7 linked regions of the Homo sapiens genome follow. The protein of the gene in region 2 purifies or fractionates together with the protein of the main gene of each other region. This does not show direct contact. Each region holds a gene or a part of one and is shown on either strand. Other genes may lie near its edges. The genes, in order: RRP1, LRRTM4, TRIM44, TGFBR3, ZC3H18, BOD1 and NRP1.

Region 1 (3,109 bases), on a different chromosome or scaffold from region 2:
AAAATAAAAAAATAAAAAAGTAAAAGAGGCTACCAATAGGAGAGGAATTCAGTCATTCATGTCATAAGCACAATGCGGTTATTTAAAACAATTCTGAATATGGGGAAACGTGCACCCAGCAGGGCCTGGAAACAGCCAGAGCGTGACAGTGCCGGCGCAGCCATGAAAAACCCCTCCCTGTGAACACACATGTGAAAGAAGATGCAAAGTCACTGTGGCTTCCAGTTTCACAACTGCAATTCGGCATCTCTAATTTGCTTTTTTCCAGAAACTTCTGTTAGCATGGTTGTTTCCTTAGCTTTTGACCAAAGAAACTTCAAAAACAAGAAAGCGTTATAATGCACCCCGTTCCCTTCCAAAGGCCTCCAACTGCAGGGGCTCGTCCCAACAGGCCCTGCTGGGGGTAAAGAGGCCAGGCCCAGGGGAACACTGACCAGGCCCAGGGGACACTGCCCAGACCTGACGCTCGCCACCGGCAGTTTACGTTAGACACGCTTGTCTTTTTTTTTTTTTTTTTGAAACAGAGTTTCCCTCTCGTTGCCCAGGCTGGAGTGCAATGGCGTGATCTTAGCTCACCACAACCTCTGCCTCCCAGGTTCAAGCAATTCTCCTGCCTCAGCCTCCCGAGTAGCTGGGATTACAGGCATGTGCCACCACGCCTGGCTAATTTTGTATTTTAGTAGAGATGGGGTTTCTCCATGTTGGTCAGTCTGGTCTCAAACTCCTGACCTCAGGTGATCTGGCCACCTCGGCCTCCCAAAGTGCTGGGATTACAGGTGTGAGCCACTGTGCCTGGCCACGCTTGTCTTTTTAAGTTCCTTTGGGGAAAGAACCCTAACCCCTAGAACAGGGGCCCTGGCCTTCCCTCTCCTTGGCCCCTAACTGTGCCCTAAGCCTGCCCCGGCCGCCCAGCTGAGTGGGACTGAAGGAGGTGTCACCAGGTGCCACCTGCCCGGGGTTGGGGGACACTCGAATGCAGCAGGGCTTTGGGGAACCGGATGCAGTCCAGGGTCTGCACAAGGCCAGCCACAGCCTAGAGGTCCTTCCTGGTCCCAGGCCCACTCCAAGCCCTGGCCTCTCGCTGGATCCCACACGGCCTGGCTGGCTGGGCACCCATGGAACAGAAGATGCGGGCAAAACCCAACGCAGCGGCCCCTTGTCACCTATGCAGGCTGTGGCCACAGCGCTGGCGGCAGACAGGCCCTTGTTCCATGCAGGTGGAAAGCCCTGGGCTACTGTCAGCTCTCCGTCGCCACAGTGGGGACCCGCCACCTCCCTCACAGGCTCCAGCAGGTGTGAAGGGGAGAGGGGCAGGGAGGACGCTGAGGGTGACCTGGCTGAGGGAAAGAGGTGCGCAGCCTGCGGACCCGCGGGTACCCAGGATGGCGGGGCGCTCCTGCCTCCAGGAACAAGGCTCTCGCGGAAGCCAGGTCTTCCCACCACACACACGCTCACCCCGGGCAATCCAGGCCTTACTGGAGCTGAATTCCTTGCACAACTCTAGACCCCAGATTGAGGGGGAAGCAAAAGAGCCCCGTCCAGACAGCCCTGTTAACACCTGGGCAGTTCTGTGAAAGGAGAAATGTCTTGCAAGATTTTTCCACAAACATGAATATAAACCACCACACTGCTCGGAGGCTGGCGCCTGCCACCTCCCACACGTCCGTAGGACACACCTGAAGCGACACTTCCCCTGGCAAGGGCTGCGCGGCATTTTATTTTCTGAACCCCCCACAGCAGGGGCGGCCAGTCCTGCTGCAGGCAGAGTTTCAGTCTTCGGAGTTTGACCTTCTGGCCCAAGGTCATCACAGCCACAGGCGGAGGCTCTGGGGAAAGGTCCAGTTCCTGGGATGCTGGCCCCTAATGATGGGCCCATCTCTCCAGTGCCGCCCTTCCCTCCCGCCTGGCACAGGAGTTCTGGAGCCACGGTCCTGAGTCTACAGAACAGCCCGGTCAGCCTCGTCCCGCGGTGCAAGCGAGGCCTGGCCTCCCTCCCTGCCTGTCCTTGGCCCGGCCACATCACTCCCTGCGTTTCTTCTTCTTCTCCGGCTCCTGGACATTGGCCGCCTTTGCTCGGGCACTGGTCAGGGGCCGAGGTGTCCTCCTTCTCTGGCGAGCCCCTCTCTGGCCACGGCCCCTGGGCTGATCTCGGAGCAGGGCCCGCTCAGCTGTGCCTGGCTGCTCACCAGCCTCTGCCCGCGCCTCGGGGTCGGCCCCTACACCCCTCCTCCTGCTCCTCTTCCTCTCCATGCCCGGGCTCGGGGGCTCCTTCTCACCTTTCCCTGACAAAACAGCAAGACCCCATGAGCCAGAGAATGCCAACACGGGCTCTTTCCACTTACTCCAACTCAGGCTGAGGATGCCAGCACCACAGACCTGGGAGGACAACACGGCCACAACAGCCAGCCAGACGCATCCCGTGTCCAGTGTGGGCGCCAAGCTCCATCCACACGGCTCAGGACCTCAGCAAGGGCTGACCTCAGAAGGACCAGCGTGAGGACAGGGTCATGAGACCCAGGAGCAAAGGCACAGAGGAGTAGGCAGGACTGGGCTCAAGGCAGAAGGGGAGGTGGAAGAACAGGACGCCAGGCAGTGCCAGGTCCTGAACGCCAGGGCCGACAGGGTTCACACAGCCAAGGGCCGGCTACAAAGAGGAGGCCACTGCCTCATGGGAAATGAGATGGACGGCTTCAATGGCACGGAGCTCTGGGCAAGGGAAGGGGTGAATCCCTAGGCCCTGGGGCCAGTTTAGCATGGAGAGAGTAACAGGGAAGGCTTCCCAGTGTGGGGCAAAGCCACCATGTGCCTCCTCTGCACCCCATTCTTGCCATGGGCCCCCTGCCCTGCCCGGCACTGTGCTCAACCCCCTCCACTGCAGGTAGGCAGCTCCAGGCCCTGAGTGGTCTGCCGCGGACCCAGGGTTGCCCCTGGTGAGGGCATCACATGCCAACCACACTCGTGTGGCCAGAGGCCCAACACGGAAGGCAGCCCCAGAAATCAAGGACAGAAGTGGAGGGAAGAAGTGGAGGGAAGAAGGGGAAGGAAGACGTGGAGAGACTCAGGAATCTCTGGAGGGTGCGGGAGAGGAGCGGACGGGGCTTGGATCTAA
Region 2 (3,500 bases):
GCTGATGGAACACAGAACCATTTGGAGAGGCTCTGAGAACACATTTACAAAAATACCAAATCTGAATTAAGCAAAACTTAAGAATACTTTGTTTTGACTACTGGAAAGGAAACAATGACACACACAGGGACCCAGGTGGTTAATGTACTGTACACTATTACTGTAAAGTACAAGACCTCAGCCTCTGAGCTCCTCAGAAACCACGAATTCAGTTGATTACATAGTGCCCTATAGAATACACTTGAAGAGTAAAAGAGCAAATATTTCAGATACTCTTTCAAAGCTTGCCAATGCACTTGGCTTTTGAATTCTTGCTATTGGTCTGCTGTGCAGGAGGGAACTTTACAATGGTTTTTACTCTCCAAGAGGTTTTAAGCCTGCCTCAATTACAATAGAGAAAATGACATGAGCCCTCTTTTAAGTGCTGTAAAAAAATAAACTGCAATTGTAATAGCAAAACAAATTTTCTCAGTTCAGAAATGGTGTAATATGTAAACGTAAAGCTTTGCAGTTAATGCAGGTCCCTTGACTTTTAAGTCAACTTAATTCAAAGACAAATACCATGATTTCTTAGCTATGAAATTGTTATCTCCCACTATAGTTTAAATTAAAAGGCTTTAAGTAAACATTGCAAATTCAACAATGTTCACTTATGAGCTACTTATTTTCATCTGTAGATTCACCTGGTTGTGCAAAAAGATCCCTAAGGCCCTGATTTCATCTCACATTCACTGTTCTATACATGTTTGTGAATTCAAGTATCTCTTCTTTGTGAAGACCATTGACAGAGCTACAAGACGGTGAACAAAACCACAACCCATGTTTAATGTTCATGTTGATGTCTTTTAGTAATTTGGCTAATTTGTAGAAAATTAGTCATGTATTTAAGTTAAAGTGTAGAATAAATGTTCTATAATCAGTGAATGTTGTTTCCATTTGGAAATAATTTGCTGAATTTTTATGTGATTTTCAAATTATGTTACTTCACCAGTTAACAAGAGAGTACGAATGGGCTGTATTACTCTTAGGAAATCCCTTTTGAAAGCATTCTTCCCACTGAAATGTCAGCACAAAGTGTCTTCTTACATTTCGATGCTTTCTTGGAGTATAAGTGACCCATGGCACCAATCCCACATATCTCCAGGAATCTGACACCCTGAAAAATCCTATGAGGTTTCCTAAAATAGGTCCCGCTGGCAAACATTTTACGTCTGAACCTGTACTGATTGAAAGAGGTCTCATTGAATAAGATATAATAAAAACAAAACAAAACAATAGACTTGGGGTGAGGGAGATTAGAGCTAACTTTTATTTAGTATCTAGTAATTCGGCCATGTCACTTTACAGTCTGTTCCTAGCTCTCTCTGTCAGCACAGAAATTAAGGTCCAATTTTTAAAATATCACTATCAATCACAACTCTGACCTAGTATGTATTTTTTGCAATTCTCCTTTTTACAGAATAGAATGGCATATTCAAGATTTTATCAATAGCTTGTTTGATGAGAAATACTCTTGTTACTATTTTGTAAAAGACTTCCTGAAAATAGTTTTTACCTTCCTTTAGAGGTAAAACAACAACAAATCAGAAACAAAGCATTACATATTGATTTAATTTTCCAACTCATTGTGAAAAACAGTGAATTATACAAGTTAATAGAAGTGAATAGTAAAAACAGAATGGGAATTTATCTAGGCTATTGCCAGTCACTGTAAAATAAATTGTAATCTGAATATGTGCTTTGATCAAGTATTTTTTCAAAAACATGGTCTACCATGATTCCCAATTTTCAAACTTCAAAATGTGTCCCAGTACACACATTGATATGCACATACATAAATTTAAAACAAAACTCTTATGAACAACTTATCTTTATACTCTGATACTTTCTATTCTAGCTAATTTAATTTTTTAAATGCTTATTTGGATTCACAAAATTGATTTCATAACCTACTAATGAGTTGCATTTGCGCATAGAAAACATTGCTTTAATCTAAGACTTAAAAACTGTGAGGAGGTGACTTTCCCCTTAATAAGCAGAGAGGTGTTAAAAACATAATTCTCATAAGAATAGAGAGGGAATTTGTGTCAACGTTGTATTAATCACATTAATAAAAATACCAGCAAGAAAATACTAGAGCTAGTTTTAAGAGCATTTGAGGAACTTGCATAGTAAACAGACGAATGACATCTAAAAATAAGTTTGCTGAATTATATTTAAGACTGGTTAACTCCCTGCAGTATAGGGAGCCATAAGACCTCTGGTGGTTAACTCTAGTAAATTATAAAATCAAAACAACTTAATTTCTGCACTTTTAGATACAGAAGGATTCAAACATAGTCCAGTCGGGAGACTGACAAAATATCAGTTATTTTAAGAAAGAAATTTTAGAAAGAATGCTAACTGGATATAGAGTTATTAACCAAGTTTATGCAAAGGCTAAGATATTGCTGTGGTATCACAGAAACAGCAATGTTAGGAAGTAGCTACCACCCCTACAACTTACAGGGCTGAGGGAACGAAAGGAAGATCATTAAGACTTAAAAGCTTGGAGGAGAAGCTTTGTGGTGATGAACCTCAAATCTCTCTGGTGCTAGTGCTGGTGTCTCTGAGGAGGGCTTGATGAGATCAAATGTTGGATATACTGCAAATGTTGGAAATACTACAAAGAGGCAGCACCTGCTGCTGTGGGAATAAATTGATATAGCCAGAATGAAGACATGCCATTAGGATAAATTCCTGGAGGAGGAAGAAACAAAACAGGAAACCAACAATGGGAGCAATTCCCTCTCCCTGCCAAGTCTTGCCATCTCCCTCCATTGGCAAAGCCTAACAGGAAACCACAAATAAAACAGATATGTGGTTTGCAAAGTCCAAACCTCAGCATCCTAAAAGCAACCACAGAAGGGAACTTAGAGCTGAGAGTCAATAGTTTAAAACCTGCCACAACATCTAACCTTACAGGGCAATGGAGCCTTTGCACTTTTCTCATCTGTGGATTGTTCATCAAGAGTGTCAAATTGTAACTCGCAAGTATGAGAAATATTCTAGCATGAGAACAACAAGTAAGCAAGTATCATTTGCTTTTTCCTAAATTTGGAATATATTTATCTTTATCAGAAATTTATGGCTTAATTAAAAGCTCCACCAAAATTCAAAATTATTATAACTGATATTTTCTGCTTTTTATATTAAATGAATTTCTGCAGACCATTATTCAGGTCTGTTACGCTAACATTAGACACATATTTGGCTTGTTACCTTGAAAACCAATAATAACATTACATATTATGAACATAAAGATGTGCCTTCTCCCATGATTCCAGAGTTCTTTGGTCCAGTATTGATATGTGATAGAGTGTTAGAATTAATCTATAGGAAATTGTGATTATTTTTTAAAACTAAATAAAAGTTACACATGATGATAGTAAAGATTTCAATTGTGTATAGGTATCAAATAAAAAGTTACATATATGTTTATATATATAAATAAAAGTGTA
Region 3 (3,500 bases), on a different chromosome or scaffold from region 2:
ACCAGCCTGGCCAACATGGTGAAACTCTGTCGCTAGTAAAAACACAAAAAGTTAGCTGGGTGTGGTGGCATGTGCCTGTAGTCTCAGCCACTCAGGCGGCTGAGGCAGGAGAATCACTTGAACCTGGGAGGGAGAGGTTGCACTGAGCCGAGATCATGCCACTGCACTCCAACCTGGGCATCAGAGCGAGATTCCGTCTCAAAAAAACAAAAAACAAAAACAAACAAACAAACAAAAAACCAAAGTGAATGTACTTAATGCCATTGAACTGTACACTCAAAAATGGTTAAAATTTTGTATGTATATTTTAGTACAATCATGTAAGAGTCCTAGCAAAGTGCCTGACTCTCAGTAGATACTCAAGAAATGCTAGTCCCATTCCTCTTAAAAAAAAAAAAAACAAAAACAAAAACAAAAAGAACCTACAGTAAAATAAAATCATGCGCCTTTCCCTATTTAATTGTGAGAAACTTTGATTCTAAGGCAAAGCCAGCTGGCCCCAATACCAGGTAGTGCCACAGTAAGTGTCTGGGTAGGAAGGAGAAGGAAGTCTGTTCAGTTCCGTTTACCTCCACCCCGTTATGGTGTCTCCCAGAATATCAATCCTCTAGACCCTAACATATTGAAATAAAAAAAAAAAGCCGGGACACTTAAACCAGTTTCCAAACCAGACTTCAGGTCATGAGGAAAAAAGTATTCTGAGTGGCAGCTGGCTCCTGGAAGCAGTGGAGAGATAAGACGCTAGTGCTGAACACCAACTAGATGAGTCTGGATCCCATGCCAGTCCCTGGCATTAAGATGATCTGTATTTCTCAGCTGGTGCGGTGGCTCACACCTGTAGTCCCAGCACTTTGGGAGGACGAGGAGGGCGGATCACGAGGTCAGGAGTTCGAGACCAGCCTGACCAACATGGTGAAACCCCGTCTCTACTAAAAATACAAAAATTAGCAGGGCATGGTGGCGCAGGCCTGTAATCCCAGCTACTCAGGAGGCTGAGGCAGGAGAATGGCTTGGACCCGGCAGGCGGAGGCTGTAGTGAGCCAAGATTGCGCCACTGCACTCCAGCCTGGGCAACAGAGCGAGACTCTGTCTCAAAAAAAAAAAGATGATCTGTATTTCTCTCAGACGCCTTTGGCTGCATCTAATGGACACAGAGGACCAAAGATTCAAAGACCCCTGGTAAAGGAGGATTAAAAATGCACCTGTCTGCAGTTCAGGGAAAACAATGAATGATTATGTGTTGTAAGTCATAAAATAGAGAAGGAGAAAAATAGATGACTTATCTCTAGGCATATCAGGACACTGTTTCTGATGGGCAGGCTTAATTAAATCTTAATGCAATATTCAGAGAGATGATCATCAACACCTCACAATTTTAGCTCAAGGAGAATGAAATGCTTGGGGTACCAACACCCAATCAATTCCAAACAATACTTACTTTAGGGTCTGAGCTCTTGAACTTCAACCTTTCCACCAATTCGATCATAGCGGCCTTCAGTCCACCTGAGTCTTTGCTCTAGAAGAAAGAAAAGTGAGGGGTCACTAGACAGCATTTTGTTGCTCTCTCAAACACAAACAGCATTTTGGAAGACAATGAAATAGAAAGCAATTTTTTCTTAACAGCCAAGAGAGCTAAACAACAAAGGAGAGGTGCATTGCCCCTCTTTCCCTTCTCTATGGACAAAGAGTGTCAGGACATAAATTGCCCAGTGACTGGCACAACTATATGGAATGAAAATTAAATACAATTTGTATAGGCTGACTCACTGCTTCATCTCAGGCTCAACTGTGCTGGTGTTCACTGAAGCTCTACAAAAGACAGTTCCATACAAGATGTCTATTTTACAGACTGGTAATTTTTATTTTGAACCTTTATGCATCAGATATAGAAGTATGCAATATTAAATATACTTATAAAAATTAAAACAAAGAAAATAGTCTGAAATTTAATTATGAATGGAACTGTAGTGTGCTGATTAAGAACACAGGTTTTTTAACTGGGTGTGGTAGCTTGCACCTGTAATTTCAGCTACTCAGGAGGCTGAGGCAGGAGCATTGCTTGAGGCCAGGAGTTCAACACCAAAAAAACCCATAAAACTCACAGGTTTTTGAGTCAGACATATACAGTTCCAATTTTGGATTTGCCATTAACTAGTTGATTAATTTCAGGCAAATTACTAAATGTCTCAAAACCTTCTCCCCCTTCTATAAAATAGTGATAATAAACTGGGCTATTTTGGGGCCTAACTGAAAGTGTTTTAAAAGATATTAGCACAGTATGTGGCACACAGTGAGTGCTCAAAAATTTCATATGCTATTACTATTATTACAGTATAATGATTTAGAATAGCACAGTACAATAAAAGACTAATGTGAGTCCCAAATGCAAGCGTATGTATATAATTTTATAACTGCCACAATTAAAAAGTAAAATTGATTTTGATGTATTTTACTTAACTCAGTATATTCAAAATATCATTACAACATGCAATTTCAACATGAGATTTTTTTTTATGCTAGGTCTTTGAAATCTAGTATTTCACAATTACAGCCCAATCAATTTAAACCAGCCACATTACAAGTGCTCCAAAGCCACATGTGACTAGTGACTACTATATTGGTCAGTACAGATTTAGAGCACAGACTAGAGCCCTAGTGCCATTAGTCACACACTAGCTGTGTGACCTTAGGCAAGTTACTTACCCTCTCTCTGTCTCAATTTCTTTATCTGTAAAATAGAGCCAATAACTATCTATTTCATAGGACTGCAGTAAGATTAAATTAGTTAATGTATGTCAAGGTACTCAGAACAGAGCCTGGCACATGGTAAATAAAAAAGGAAGTATGAAACAGTTTTATTACTATCTGTCTCCCTCGTGATATTTTCAGTTCCTTAAGGGTAAGAACTGTATTTTTTTGTATCCCTGTATCTCTTATGCCCAGCATCTAGATGTTGTAAAAAGTCTGAACAAATCAATGAATGAACATATAACCTTAAGACATGAATGCCATAATAATAATACATTATATTATATATAGGACAATCTAAAATCACAGGAATTCATTTATTTTCTTATCTCAACAACTCTATCAGATAGGTAGGAACATTCATTTCACCAATGAGGGAAAGGAAGCAAAAAGAGGTAAACTCACTGTCATTTCTATGGGGTAGGGACAACAAAGAAGTACAAGAATAAACAGATACTGCAAATATCTCTTACTCAAAATTGGCCTCTGGATCTGTGATAACATATCTTCCAAATTTACAGAACTAATTTCAATTCCTCCAAAATAGGAAATACCTAATAAGATTCCACTATATAAATTAAAATATACTAAAGGGTCAATTTTCCCCCCTCTGACCTCTCTTGCCTCTCAAGTCTACACAGTAAAAATCAGACACAACATGACTACAACCAATATCTACTTTAGATGTGTTCTCCAAACACAGCTTAAATCACATTTCCATGTTAGCAAAGGTTCTAAATTTTAATAAGTTC
Region 4 (3,500 bases), on a different chromosome or scaffold from region 2:
TTGCAGATCTCCCCTATCAAATGCATTCCACCAAGGTCAAATGGTTCTGCTTTTTGTTATGGCAATAGAACATTCAATCTGGAGAGTGACAGGAGGCAAATATGATGAACTGATATGAAACTGAGAAAAGCTAAAATATTTGTTAGTTTCCCCTAGAAGTCTCCCTGAGACAAGTCAACCTTATATTTCACACAGAAAAGGTTAAAAAACAATGACAATGCCAGTCCCAGCAGGACCTGGAAAAATTAATTCTCACAATGAACTTGTCCTTTCGGCTTGCTGTGTTTTTGGCCTGCAAACTATCTGAAAAGCAAAGATAAAGCCAGAAATCTCCCTCCATGGAAAAGCGTCTTGATTTATCACTCGTAAGGTACTACTAAGTAGCACGCATGGAAAAAAGAAACTCATGCTGTCAGGATTTATTATCTAAGACTCCATAAAACTCACAGTTCCCTGCTAATAGTGACTTTAATATTTCAGTTGGGCAGTTCCAAAACAAAAAACCTCAACCTGCAAGACCTTGGGATTAAACTTTTCTGCCTCACCTAAAAATGCCAAAATAACCATCCGAATGGATGAAGGCCCACAAACCTTAGGCAACTTCTGGGGGTGCTTCTCCATCTTCGTACACAGCGTCAGCTCACACTGTAGAAAGAGCAGTGAGGTGTTGAAGACAGGCTTGAAGACAAAGCTGAATCGCTTCTTATCCATGTCAGCTTGCGGGATAGGAAAGTGCACTCTCTTGGGACTGTAGAATTTCACAGATTCATCTTTAGGACAAATATTCTCAATAATGGTGTAATGAGACATCCTATCAGGGTTCGAATATGGAGAGATAAAGCACGTTTGGATGGCAAATCCCAGTTCTTGTTCAGCCTTAGTAACAGATACCTATGAAAGAACAGAAAGATGAATTAGGAAATGAGTTAGCATCTCACTTTCACTTTAGGCACAAGGACCATATGCCAAGACAGCCCTTCAGATGACACGCTGCTTTATCTTCATAACATAGTTATAGCCTTCTTTCTAATTACAAAAGTAACACACACACATTGAAAGAAAAAGATATTTTCCACTTCAATTTGATATAGATGATGACAGTGAATTATTTCTTTCAAATATTAGTCCATTAGATTCAAATACAAGATGAGTAAGTCTCTTCCACCTCCCAATGAGTCCTCTGAGAGCTAAAAATAAAAACATATTTTGCATTTAAAGTGGATTTTCCGAAGTAAATAAAACACCAGTAGGCAAAGTCCCTAATGTTTTAATAGTACAACACTTATAAGCTAAGCTCTTTTTAAAGACTGACCAAAAAATAGAGTTCAGCGGCAAAATCTATTTAACCTAGGCAGGAAGACTGAGCTTCTAAATTGCAAAAAGTCAGAGTAAGCCTGATGAGAGTCCTGCTTCATCGGCGAGAAGGCAGAGCTGGCTCCGGCGCTGGGTGTCAGTGACGGTGCAACCTGGAGGCCATCATGGGCCTGGTAAAGTGTCCCAGCTGCTCACAGATCCAAATCAGCCTTGCCAAGTACTCCCCCTTCGCTCCATAAGCCCAGGGGTAGTTTAGGGGAAATCTAATCTGGAAACGTTTCCGACTCATTTATACTTCCCCCTTTGAAAACACTTGTATGGGCTACGTCCAAATTTTGTTAAGGTTCTTTTCCTTAGAAACAGGAAGTAATGTTTAGCCAAGTGTAAACAGAATTCAAACCTCAACTATCCTGAACTTAGCTAAAATCCCCAGACCAGAGGAGATTCTCCATTTGGTGACACGTGGATCACTGCATGAACTGCCCCTCCCTGCTATGCCTCATTCTTTGACTAAATTTAGGATCAAAATAAACTTAAACACTTGTAGAAACAGCTAGTCCTTACCCATAGACCAACAGCCGCAGAATCATTTCAAAAGACATGGAGATAGAAACAGACTTTCCACGCTGAGATACCCAGGGGAAACCCCTGACATCACATGGGGCTTTGAATCCGCAGCACTGTTGTGAAAGATTCCTACGTGGTGGTTAACTGCAGGACACTCAACAGTGAAAATGCTAATGAAGAGGATTCTGATAATGTCACTGTGGTGACATTCTGTAAATACTAACACTTCAGTATTTTTGCAATACTTCTGAAAAACAAGATATTCTATCTTGGAAAGGTGGCAAATTACATATGTGCTATTACTAAAAACTGCCGTTTAACATGAACTCAGAAACCACATGCCAAAATGTGTAACAGAGGGACTGCAAATCTCTTCTCTAATCTCAAAAGAAAGTATGTAGCGGCAGAATGTCTAAGGTATCCCAAAAAGGGATACCTTTGTAGCAGAGGGAAAAAATATATATTATTTTTTAATATATTTTATGTATATATAGTTTATATATATAAATTATCAGCAAATCTTTTACTAAAAAGGATTTTACTTTTAGACCAGAAGTGAGTAGGAGAAGGACTACGGGCTTTGTAGTGAGACGAGCTCATAAAAATTACATGCTCTCCTGCTCACGTGCTGGGCACCGAGACTCAGTTTACTCACCTACAGAATGAGAACACGAATACCCACAAGATATCATAATTGTGAAAACTAGCAAAGTAAAAGTTACATGCAAACAACACAGTTCCCAGAGTGTCAATAAATGCTACCTATTAGTAATAGTAGTATTCTAGATTTAAAATTTTGGGTTATTAACAACTGGGTTTGTAAATTCCCCAAGACAAATGAACCAAAAGAAAACTGCCATTATGTGACCAACAGTCACCTGGAGATGACCAATGAACAGGTGGCAACACTGTTAACTTGGATTATGAAAGGGACTGTATGGTGTAGAGGGAATAGAGGATAAACTATGAGAAATATAGGTGATATATGAAAAGGTATAAATGGGAAAACAAGAATGGAAAAAAAAAACTACCAATAACACACTTCAAGTAAGCCAGCATTTGAAGGATGGGGGAAAAAACCCAAAATATCCAGGGTAAGGTACAGGAGGAAGATTGACCACTGATTAGCATAAATCAGCAAAGCCAGGCATAGATTTGGAAAAGAACAATCTGCAATTATGCAGCACCCCTGAAATCCACAGCGCAATAGGGTGCTGTTGACCAACTGCCCATGTGAACTGTACAGCCAGAAAAGCAAGAGAAAAACAGCCATCTTGGCTTAGGAAAAGCATGTAGAAGGCAGTATATTTTCCCCAATGGAGAAAGAAGGTGTGCTCAAAGAAAGAGAACTCTCAGAATGGGGGAGGGGCAGAATCCATATGATCAAGGAAAACAACATCTAGCGCCAGCGGGCTCTGTCCCAGAGTCAGTGCGAATGTGAGAGTTATGTGTCTTTCCAAAACAGAAACACGTGCACCAAAGTCACTTTTAACATATGGAAGTACCCCACTTTGACCCTTTAAGCTTCTCACCCCTCCCACTATGAAGCTGAGCTTGCAGCTGAGCACCAAAACCAGCTCATTAGATGAGGACCTTCCCATAAGACCAACAGATGATAT
Region 5 (3,500 bases), on a different chromosome or scaffold from region 2:
CCAGGTTCAAGCGATTCTCCTGCCTCAGCCTCCCAAGTAGCTGGGATTACAGACGCACGCCACTACGCCCAACTAATTTTTTGTATTTTTAGTAGAAACAGGGTTTCACCATGTTAGCCAGGCTGGTCTCAAACTCCTGACCTCAGATGATCTGCCCACCTTGGCCTCCCAAAGTGCTGGGATTACAGGCATGAGCTACCGCGCCCGGCCTAATTTTTGTATTTTTAGTAGAGACAGGGTTTTACCAGGTTGGCCAGGCCGGTCTGGAACTCCTGACCTCAAGTGATCTGCCGGCCTCAGCCTCCCAAAGTGCTGGGATTATAGGCGTGAGCCACCACGCCCGGTCCTGTTATTTTTAAACAAATATTTAAAACCTTTTCTTCGTTTTAGTTTTCAACACCCTAAATACCGACAGGCATCATCTGCAAGTCAGATGTTCTCTGGACCCTCCTCCTACTTGTTAAGAGCAATGGGGTCTCAGACCCAGCTGCTCCGCATCCCCAGGCTCCCGTCCCTCTGCCCTGCCCCCTAGGGGCTGGGAGGCTCACCTCGGTCTGGGGATGTGTTGGGCCGCTTGGCTGGAGGAGGGCTCTGCCTGTCCTTGTCTGATGGTTCATAGCGCTTCCTGCTTCCTTTATCAGCCGCCTGGGACAAGAGAGAGGCCAGTGAGGACAGCAGGGCCAGGAGCCAGAAGCCGTGTCCTCGCCCCAGAGGACATGGGTTCCTTGCCAGCAACCTGCTCTGCTCCCAAAGGTCCCACCACACACCCATGAGACCCCGTAGCCCTGAGTGAGGCCTCCAGGACCCGGACCAAGGGCACCCCCACTGTGCACTTGGGGCCCTTCACGTTCCAGGGGAAGCACCCTGCAGGCCTTCCTGCTCCCCACGGGGGCCACTCTAGGAGGACCTGGGACCCATGAAGCCAGGCCTCTTGCCCTTCCAGCAGAGGACAGGGATGTGTCCTGCTGAGGACAGAGGACAGGGACGGAGGCTTCCTGTATTGTGTTGAGACTGCATGGCAGGGAATGGCGGCCACAGGCACGAAGAGAACGCCCTCTCTGTTCAGAGAGAGGCCAGCAGCACCCAAACCTCCCCAGATGCTCACACTTCCCAGCCCAGGCCGGAAAGATGGAGTCTCGCTTTGTTACCCAGGCTGTGCTGACACCTGCAAGGCCCCACTCGCCCTCACTCAGGCTCCGTCCCCCAGGAGGAAGCTGTCTCAGGAAGCAGATGGACCCAGGCCTAGACGCTGGGGCAGCCACCAGGAGGGCCCTTGCCCTCACCTTATTCAACAGTGTCAACTTGATCTCCTTGTGGGCCACAAATGTGCCCTGCTGGGGCTGCCCGGGGGGTGCCTGCTGGGGTGTCGAGGGCTGCTGGGAGGACTTCCCCCCTGCTGGAGGTTTTGCAGATTTGGGTGGTTGTGTGGACGAATCCCTTTTCCGCTTTTCCTCTTTAACACCGTCTTCTTTCTTAGATTTTCCTACCAATGATAAATCCGCAGTCATGGGGGTACTGGTGATTTTCCCATGGCCACACCAACAGCCAGGCAAAGTCTGTGCTGATGCCGCCCTCCTCCCCCGGGAGCTGCTCCCCAAAGGTACCAGGGCTCCTGAGTACCTTTCTCCTTCCTGGTCTGGGCTGGGGCCGGGGACCGAGAGCTGGCTGAGGACACGGGGCTAGCCAGGTCTGCGTACATGTCCTCCGAGTCCACGCTGTGTGCAGAGCTGCTGCTCGACGTAGCACTGGACACTGAGGAGACGCTGCTCACGCTCAGGGACCTGGACACACAAGCACATCTCACCACACCCCAGCCAGACTGGAGGGAGGGGCCAGCAGGGGGTGCTCCATGGTCCACTTTTACGCAGTGTCCATTTATGGATCATGTACCCACGGAATGTGTGATTTTGGGGGGACACTGGGCAGTTTCAGGGTTACAAAGTAAGGGACGTCCCCATGGCTAGGCCAGGGCCCCATTTCACTAATCAATGTCAGGTTGCAGCCAGGCACGGCTGCTCACGCCTGTAATCCCAGCACTCTGGGAGACTGAGATGGGCAGATCTCGTCACGAGCAATGGGGTCTGAGACCCAGCTGAACTGATGTCAGGAGTTCGGGACCAGCTTGGCCAACATGGTAAAACCCCATCTCTACTAAAAATACAAAAATTAGCCGGGCGTGGTCGCAGGCGCCTGTAATCCCAGCTACTGGGGAGGCTGAGGCAAAAAAATCGCTTGAACCCGGGAGGTGGAGGTTGCAGTGAGCCGAGACCATGCCATCGCACTCCAGCCTGGGCGACAAGAGTGAAACTCCGTCTCAAAACAAACAAAAAACAAAACGAATGTCAGGTTGCTTTTTGGGAAGGGAAACAGGACTGAGCTGACTCAACAGCGGCAAGGATGGAATTTAAGCAGAGTCCCTGGCTTAGACAAAAGGGAGATAGCCTCAGCCCACAGGGAAATTAAAAACACAAGGAGCAATTCCGCAGTCTCAGGGAATGCCTGAGGAACACACGGCAGACAGACTGGAAACAGCAGGTCTGTAGCTTCACTGGCGTGCACTCAACACGGACACAAAGCACACAGGACTGGCACCTGAGTCTGCCCTGCCCATATGCTGCTCGAGAAAACACCAACCACGTCTTCCAGGTACATTGGGTACCGGAGCAAGGAACGGGGGAATGTAAGAGAACCATTTTTTTTTTTCAAAAGTCAGGTCTTTAAAACATTTCAGACTTATTAAGAAACATTTAGGCCAGGCGCGGTGGCTCATGCCTATAATCCCACGAGTTTGGGAGACCACGGTGGGAGGATCACTTGAGCCCAGGAGTTTGAGACCAGCCTGGGCAACACAGCAAGACCATGTCTCTCCAGAAACAAAACAAACAAAAGAAACAAAGAACTGTGACAAATATATAAACGACCTGCTGCCTGGAAATGAAAGAGTTCTATGCAAGGAATCTAAGGACTGATTTAATACTTTCTTTTAAAACAACTAAATAGCAAAAATCCTTTTTTTTTGTTTTGAGACAGGATCTCTGTTGTCCAGGCTGGAATGCAATGTCGTGATCACAGCTCATTCAACCTTGACCTCCCAAGTAGCTGGGATCATAGGCACACACCACTATACCCAGCTAATTAAAAAAAATTTCTGGGCTGGGTGCAGTGGCTCACACCTGTAATCCCAGCACTTTGGGAAGCCGAGGCGGATGGATCACCTGAGGTCAGGAGTTCAAGATCAGAAACGTGGTAAAACCCAGTCTCTACTAAAAATACAAAATTAGGCTGCGTGCGGCGGCTCACGCATGTAATCCCAGCACTTTGGGAGGCCAAGGTGGGTGGAATGCCTGAGCTCAGGAGTTTGAGACCAACCTGGGCAACATGGTGAAACCCCATCTCTACTAAAATACAGAAAATTAGCTGGGCGTGGCAGTGTGCGCCTGTAGTCTCAGCTACTCAGGGGGCTGAGGTTGAATCCGGGAGGCGGAGGTAGCGAGATCGCG
Region 6 (3,500 bases), on a different chromosome or scaffold from region 2:
GGAACTTCCCATTAAAGCTATGTGGTCCTGAAGAGGAGACACTCCAGTTAGTCTGAGCAGCTTTTCTGCAAGCACAGGACTGGTTAATTCTGGCCACTCCCTGTCTGCCTAGTAGTAGAGAGGAGTGGAGGGTCCATTTTCTGGGGTTAAGAACTTTGTTGACTCCTGCAACTGTAAGGCAGCTTGAAATGGAACTGCACCTACCAGGTGGGAACAGACCACACGTCAGATATAACTGGCACCTGCCTTAAACGTGTGGCCAGTTTGCTTTAAAATTAGGGCACATGCTACCAAGCATCTTGCTGAATATGGCACTGCAGTGCTCATACAGGGGTATTCATGGTAAAGGTGGAAGTGGAGCCTTTGTCTTAACAGGGAACCAACTGAATTGGTTAAAATTTTGATCAGATTAGCAGCAATATGCAGTAGTAGACTCAACCAAGAACCACAGACTTAGTTAGACATAATCTTGGATATATTATCCAAGGCTTATTATACAGAGTATGTTCAGAGGCCTGGCAGCATCAGCATCACCTGGCAGCTTGTCAGAAACACTCACTCTTAGGTCCCACCCCAGAACTTCTTAATCAGAAATATGCATTTTCCCTTAAATCCCCAGGTGCTACTTCTGCACACACAAGGATGACAAACACTGACACATACCACGGACTACCTCAACTAAAGACCAGTGTCAGTAATGGCTCAGGGAGGAGAGAAACAGCCCACTACTAGCTACACCTACTAGTTTCATAGTTCCAAGTTATATGTACCAATCTTCACTGCCAGTAGATCATGTGTGGTGCACAGAGGCAGAAGACAAAGGTTGCCCTTCACAGACCTGAGGTTTAAGCTTCAGCTGAAGCTTCGGAGTAAAAGTATCAAATAATTTTATTATGAAAGATAAGCCATTTATTGACCATTCACTTTTCTAAAAAAACACAAATGTGAGAATAAAATAAACATACCTAAGACTCACTGGCCCCTCCAGGACAGGAAGCAGCCCTGGACAGAGAGCCTGCAAACGAGTTTCCTTATGCCTAATGTCTGAACTTCTCATACATTCTAGGATTTCATGTTTCGTTACAAAGGAAAGGAAACTGGCTAGAAGATTCATGTACAAGAAGGTCACAACTTTAAAGCTATCTGACGCTAATGACTTGTACAATCTGGTTTGCAAACTCTGAGAGACAGTATCAAATAAGCACTGTCAAAGACTACTCCCAGCTAATCTTTACTGTCATTTTTCTTTGAAATTGTCTTTGGGACTGGCTATGTTCTCACTGTAGCTTCCGTTTATCCCACAGCACAAACCCTAAAGTCCATGTGCAGTCTCCATGTTCAAGTATAAAAGTCTGTTTCAGGACAACCCTGGGTTGCTGTAGTGTTTCTCTCTCTGTAGTGTCTACTTGGTGTCATGCCCTTGGACAGGCTGGCCAAATGGCAGCACAATGCAGGGGGTGACACGGTCAACTCTCCCACTGCCGAACTTGCTCCCCTTTCAATCTGGTCACTGCCCATGGTCAAGGTTGAAATCTTGAGATCAGTGACGACCTTGGCCTATCTTCAGTCTGAAGTTGCACTCTTATGTAACCGAATCCATTTCTTCACCAAAAATTAGCTTTCAAAAGGTGTCTGGCGTATTCTAAAAAGGAAAGATAATCATATCAAAATGTTATTTATTGATAACAGACTATATTCACTTTTATGTTCCTAAAGGAATTTACAATTAAAAAGAAAGACTTAAAATGAATGTTTTACACTCCATATTGGACTCAAGGGCTTCTCTCAATAGAGGAACAAAAAGACAGTCCTGATGCTCTTGCGTTGCTCATCACTGACACTCAAAACGCCCTAGTCAATTCACCTCACTTACTGATTATAACAGGCATCTCAGAGAATCTTAAAAAGAACACCAAATCAGAATGAAGGGATAAAACATATCCCAGCAGTCACCAACAACGGCGAAAAGTCCACTGCTAACTTCATCGCTGCTCCTACTAATGTCTCCCAAAACCTGCAAAAAGCATTCTTTTGTACATCTACAGCTGTTTAAAATTACATTTAATTCCAAATTTAATTTAAAAAGGGGGAGTGTTCCTAACAGAAGAATCCCATGGTAATTGATAGTGGTAAACAAACTCCTTCTAAATTCATGGAAATCGAGTCGCACTCAAAGCAGACTCTGAATCCCATTTAGGATATCACTTCAGAAGGCACTGCTTGATTTTAAATAAAATTGCAAGCCTAAGTTAACTCATGTCCAGGAGAGACTCATTTAAACATTTCAGCAAAATAAGACTTTCATTTGAATCCCCTTTATGCACACCAATCATCCCAGCTGATTTCTAATGAAGCATCTATCCATAGCTTACATGTTTAGCGCTGGTGGAACAGAAAATCAGTCACTGACACAGGAAACTGCTACTAATTAGTTCTCAGTAAAAAGTGACTTATAACAGTAGGTGAAGTCCATCTGCAGTAAATACTTCCTGAATGATCCTCAATTACGGCCTACCCCATTCCTATCCATTTTACATATCTACAAGCCAGAGATGCATACTCCTGGACAGAAGATAGGATACTGGACCTTAGGAAGTGTCCTGAGATGGAGCTGGAGGGTCCTGGCCTTCGGGCTCTGGAGGGGGTGCTGGCACAGCTGCTTTTTTCTGGGCCGCCAGGAACTCATGAATTGCTCGTTCTATTTGTGGCCTGAAGATGTGGTTAAGTTTTGGATCCACCACCTGAGAAATAATCCTGTCTACTCCAGCTTCCAACATCCCTGACCTTGTGGAGACAAACAGATCATTCTGTTATTTAGTTCCTTCGGGATTCATCTTTAGCCCCAATAAGTGTCACGTGCGAGCCCAATAAATGTCCACCTTCAAAGCTACAGCCCTTCTAGGGAGTTTAGAGGTCAATCCACTTACCATATACAGCTCACGCTATTTTCACTTTTGAGGGGTAATTCTCAACCAGCAGCTGTTATTCCTACTGCACAATCTCACCCACAATCACCCAACCTTGTACAAAAGAATCAAAAACAAAACTAAGTGAGTTGCTCCAAAACAACAAACAAATGACAGCATGGTGAGAAAGAGTTTGACACGTGTGGCACTGAAAAGCTTCCTCGTACTGTCAAAGCCAGTAAGCCCCGAATTGGACTCCATTTCCTTCAACATTTATTCTCCTAATAGCCTAAGCAGAAGTAGCTCCAGCAGCAACCTGTTTACTAATCCTTAAAATTTAAACAAGGCCGATCAGTCAGGGCTGGGAGTATTTACATCACCAGCAATTCACCATGGCCTTCAGCTGTAGTTGCTACCTGTAACACATAATAAGCAACTTGGAAGCAAACAAGAAATAGACAAACAAATTAGTTCCAAGCTCCTAGAGGGCTAAATTACATCCCCGATCCTTTCTGAAGTAGAGCAAAAATCAGGGCATATCAATGTCTATATTCAAACACTTGGGACAGGGTACTGGAAATGATGGTGAGAGGA
Region 7 (3,500 bases), on a different chromosome or scaffold from region 2:
CCATCGTGCCTCTGTCCCCTCAATCTTACGGAAAAAAGACTGAAATTGGCAATGCTGCTGCCATGTCTTAATCCCACTTATTGAGCTCATTGCTCAAAGTTTATTGAGGCTAGTCAGAGAATGGGTGTTAGAAAGAAGGAGAGAAGTGGACGTAGGTAGAGGGATGCTCTCCCATAGGACATCCTCACTCAACTGCACCATAATCACTTCCCATCCACAACTAGACAGTAAGTTCCTCAAGCACAGAGACCCCCTCCTTCATACCTGTATTTCCAGTGCCCAACACAGCACCTGCCATGTAACAGGGCTTCTCAAATGATGCCTGTTCAGTGCAGTAGGAGAGATGCCAGATTTCAAGAATCCTCTGCCTGAGGAAGTTCTTATGGTCCCTGCCTTCTCACACTGTGGTCTTTAAATATGCTCGTGTGGCCGGGCGCGGTGGTCCACGCCTGTAATCCCAGCACTTTGGGAAGCCGAGGTGGCTGAATCACCTGAGGTCAGGAGTCCGAGACCAGCCTGGCCAACATGACAAAACCATGTCTCTACCAAAAATACAAAAATTAGCCGGGCGTGGTGGCGGGCATCTGTAGTAGCTCCTACATAGCTGTAGTCCTAAGTAGCTGGGACTACAGCTACTTAGGAGGCTGAGACAGGAGAATCGCTTGAACCTGGGAGGTGGAGGATGCAGTGAGCCAAGATCACACCACTGCACTCCAACCTAGGCAACAGAGACCCTGTCTTAAATATATATATATATATATATATATATAAATTAAAACTGCTCGTGTTGCTCCTCTGCTTAGAATTCTTCAGAGGCTGCTCACTGCCTGCAGCCTATCCACACTTCTTCACAAAGAGGGAGCGCTGGCAGCCCCTCCAATGGACCTTTTATCCACCCCCATCCTGTTTTCCTCCTGGTCACTGCATCACCAACTTAAGGTATAGTATAAAGAACCAGCAGTGTCCTGCCAAACACACACACACACACACTCACTCACAATAAACACCCGATCCACAAACTTCTGCTCTACTCAGTGAAAATGGAAGGAATCCAATTTCATCAATTTCCTTGTCAATCTCATTAGGCAAGGAGGTAGTTCCCAAAGTCATGCACACTCTGCCTCTATCTAACTGCTTCCCATACAAAAACCTGTGCAAAGCACACCAAACATGAGCCAGTAAAATAAGCCTAGCTCAGCCGGTGTCTGAGACAGGGCTGCTTTCCTTGACCCCTCTTCCGTCATCTTTTACATGGTCCATTGTCACTGGCCTCTGCCATTGGAAGCCCTCACTGAACTGCACTGTGGTTGCTTCCCAACCATGATCAGACTGCGAGTTCCTCAAGCGTAGGGACCTCTTCCTTTACACGTGTATTTCCAGTGCCCAAGTCAGCATCTGCCCTGTAACAGAGCTTCTCAAATACCACTTGTTCACTGAACCAGGGAGAGATGCCAGACTTCAGGAATCCTCTGAAAGGAGGTACCTAGTTCCATTCTTTGAGGTCAAATGCAGAAAACCAAGCAAATGGGATGCCTTTCGATAAGCAGCAGGATATTTTACCTAGCTAGTGTTCATTTTCTTTTTAAACAACCCAATGTCTGGCTTGCAAAGTTTCACCAAATAATATTATAAAAAAAGCACCATCTACTCTCTAATGTCAGTCTATGCGCGGGAGCTTCGTGAAGGGCTCTTTTCATCTGGATCTTTTTCCCGTTAACAAGTAGTTCCTGCCTTTCAGATGTCGGGCTCACCCATCTCTCTACACAAATGATTGTGTTTCTAGAACTGCAGGGGCTCTTTCTAGTCGGAGCTGACCTGGCACAACTGCCAAGTAAATCTGGGTGGCTGAGAGAACAAAAGAGTCAAACCCTTCTGAAGGAATCGCACTTCTCAGCTGTTAATCTACGACAAGCTCTCCTTCTCTGATACTCTAACACATAAAGCACTGATATTTTCCCTTTCAAGGGTTTTATCACAGTTCTGGGTCAGGAACTCTGTCTTCATTTTCTCAATTAGCACTTTACTTCTGCAAGCCTTTTAGCTTTTGTCTCTGGCTAACATAGCTTTTAACCTCCTTTGAATGTCAGATCCTACTGAGCCATTTTGCTTCACTTTGCATCAATTTTTCCACCATTACTGCCTTCATTTTGGCTAATTGCATTTAGTTAATTTGATGCCATTTATATGTACAGTGCCATTTACAGTCAAAGTATTTTAAGTTTTCTAAAACTGCCTGTCTTAAGATTCAATTGAAAGTGTCTCAGATTTGAAGGAGTCCAATTTTATCCAATTTCCTTGTCATTCTCATTAGGCAAGGAGGTGGCTGTGGTGGAAGGAGGCCTATTCAACCTATTTAATGGTTATATTCACTGGGAGAAAAGTGAACCACAAAATGGGAAAGGCATGAAGTACCCTTGGCCCAGCCTTCAGTCCACTGACTCACTCACCCAAAGAGCCAAGATGGGGAGAATTTAATGAGATTTCCTAGCATCAGCAAATGCCCCCCTGGGGTACCTTTTGGGAAGCCACTACTTGAGCAAGCAGTGCTCTGTAAGTATTTCTGAGTGGGTGCAGAAGTTCATGGATTGGGCGTTTGTTGTGAGTGTGTATATGTGTGTGTGTGTATGTGTGTGTGTGTGCATGTGTGTTGGGCCAGACATGGCTGGTTATTTCTTTATTTTTAATTTTTATTTTTTTCTCTTTAGAGACAGGTTCTAATTCTGTCACCCAGGCTGGAGTGCAATGGTGTGATCATAGGTCACTGCAGCCTTGAACTCCTAGGCTCAAAGGATCCTAAAACAGACTCTGAGTAGCTGGGACTACAAGTGTGCGCCCTTATGCCTGGCTGATTTTAAAAAAAAAATTTATTTTGTAGTGTCAGTATCTTGCTATGTTGCCCAGGCTGGTCTCTAACTCTCTAACTCAACTGATTCTCCTGTTCTGGCCTCCCAAAGTGCTGGGATTACAGGTGTGAGCCACCACGTCCAGTCTGCTGGTCCTTTATACTGTACTTCAAGTTGGGCAGTGAAATGACTAGGTGGGTAGCAGGAAGGGGGCAGATAATAGAGTTCACTGGAGAAGCTGCCAGCTTTTTCTGTCCCCCAACCCATTCCTCCCCCACCAATTAATCTTAGGAAGAAAGTAAGGCAGGAGGTGGTGGGAGGGTTGTGATCTAGGGCATGGTGAGGTTTCTACCTGCTCAAAGGAAATACACTACACTTTCAATCTTTCCCCAGTGAATAAGAATTCCACACCGTCTTTCCCCACCTCCCCTTCAAGGGTCGGGAGAGAGCAAGCATTGTGAATTGTTTCTTTAGTTGTAAAATAAACGAGGGGACATAATATATGCTTGGACTTGTTTGAAAATAATTCAGAGTCAGGGATGACAGACATAAATTAAGTTTCCTATGATCTGATAATTGTTGAAGCAGGGTCGTGCACATAGAGAATTCATTCTACTATTTCTTTTCCATTTGTGAATATGTTTGAAATTGCCCAAA

What was found.
Region 1: the proteins of LRRTM4 (region 2) and RRP1 purify together in Homo sapiens (co-immunoprecipitation; one large-scale study listed by IntAct). This does not show direct contact.
Region 3: the proteins of LRRTM4 (region 2) and TRIM44 purify together in Homo sapiens (co-immunoprecipitation; one large-scale study listed by IntAct). This does not show direct contact.
Region 4: the proteins of LRRTM4 (region 2) and TGFBR3 purify together in Homo sapiens (affinity purification with mass spectrometry; one large-scale study listed by BioGRID and IntAct). This does not show direct contact.
Region 5: the proteins of LRRTM4 (region 2) and ZC3H18 purify together in Homo sapiens (co-immunoprecipitation; one large-scale study listed by IntAct). This does not show direct contact.
Region 6: the proteins of LRRTM4 (region 2) and BOD1 purify together in Homo sapiens (co-immunoprecipitation; one large-scale study listed by IntAct). This does not show direct contact.
Region 7: the proteins of LRRTM4 (region 2) and NRP1 purify together in Homo sapiens (co-immunoprecipitation; 2 studies listed by BioGRID and IntAct, with this or other methods). This does not show direct contact.

Annotation. Positions count from the first base shown.
Region 1 is NC_000021.9:43,802,685-43,805,793, reverse strand, and holds the end of RRP1 (ribosomal RNA processing protein 1 homolog A), read right to left. Parts: intron 2,474-3,109; coding exon of another isoform or gene 2,349-2,473; exon of another isoform or gene 2,289-2,348; intron 2,283-2,288; coding exon 2,020-2,282; 3' UTR 501-2,019; downstream 1-500. UniProt on the Homo sapiens protein: Plays a critical role in the generation of 28S rRNA.
Region 2 is NC_000002.12:76,749,377-76,752,876, reverse strand, and holds part of LRRTM4 (leucine-rich repeat transmembrane neuronal protein 4 isoform a precursor), read left to right. Parts: intron 1-3,500. UniProt on the Homo sapiens protein: May play a role in the development and maintenance of the vertebrate nervous system. Exhibits strong synaptogenic activity, restricted to excitatory presynaptic differentiation.
Region 3 is NC_000011.10:35,683,275-35,686,774, reverse strand, and holds part of TRIM44 (tripartite motif-containing protein 44), read right to left. Parts: intron 1,517-3,500; coding exon 1,439-1,516; intron 1-1,438. UniProt on the Homo sapiens protein: May play a role in the process of differentiation and maturation of neuronal cells. May regulate the activity of TRIM17. Is a negative regulator of PAX6 expression.
Region 4 is NC_000001.11:91,711,652-91,715,151, forward strand, and holds part of TGFBR3 (transforming growth factor beta receptor type 3 isoform a precursor), read right to left. Parts: intron 892-3,500; coding exon 592-891; intron 1-591. UniProt on the Homo sapiens protein: Cell surface receptor that regulates diverse cellular processes including cell proliferation, differentiation, migration, and apoptosis.
Region 5 is NC_000016.10:88,625,903-88,629,402, reverse strand, and holds part of ZC3H18 (zinc finger CCCH domain-containing protein 18), read right to left. Parts: intron 1,782-3,500; coding exon 1,621-1,781; intron 1,484-1,620; coding exon 1,284-1,483; intron 646-1,283; coding exon 549-645; intron 1-548.
Region 6 is NC_000005.10:173,606,651-173,610,150, forward strand, and holds the end of BOD1 (biorientation of chromosomes in cell division protein 1), read right to left. Parts: intron 3,021-3,500; exon of another isoform or gene 2,928-3,020; intron 2,785-2,927; coding exon 2,589-2,784; 3' UTR 2,588-2,588; intron 1,643-2,587; coding exon of another isoform or gene 1,615-1,642; 3' UTR 495-1,614; downstream 1-494. UniProt on the Homo sapiens protein: Required for proper chromosome biorientation through the detection or correction of syntelic attachments in mitotic spindles.
Region 7 is NC_000010.11:33,188,168-33,191,667, forward strand, and holds part of NRP1 (neuropilin-1 isoform a precursor), read right to left. Parts: intron 1-3,500. UniProt on the Homo sapiens protein: Cell-surface receptor involved in the development of the cardiovascular system, in angiogenesis, in the formation of certain neuronal circuits and in organogenesis outside the nervous system. Mediates the chemorepulsant activity of semaphorins.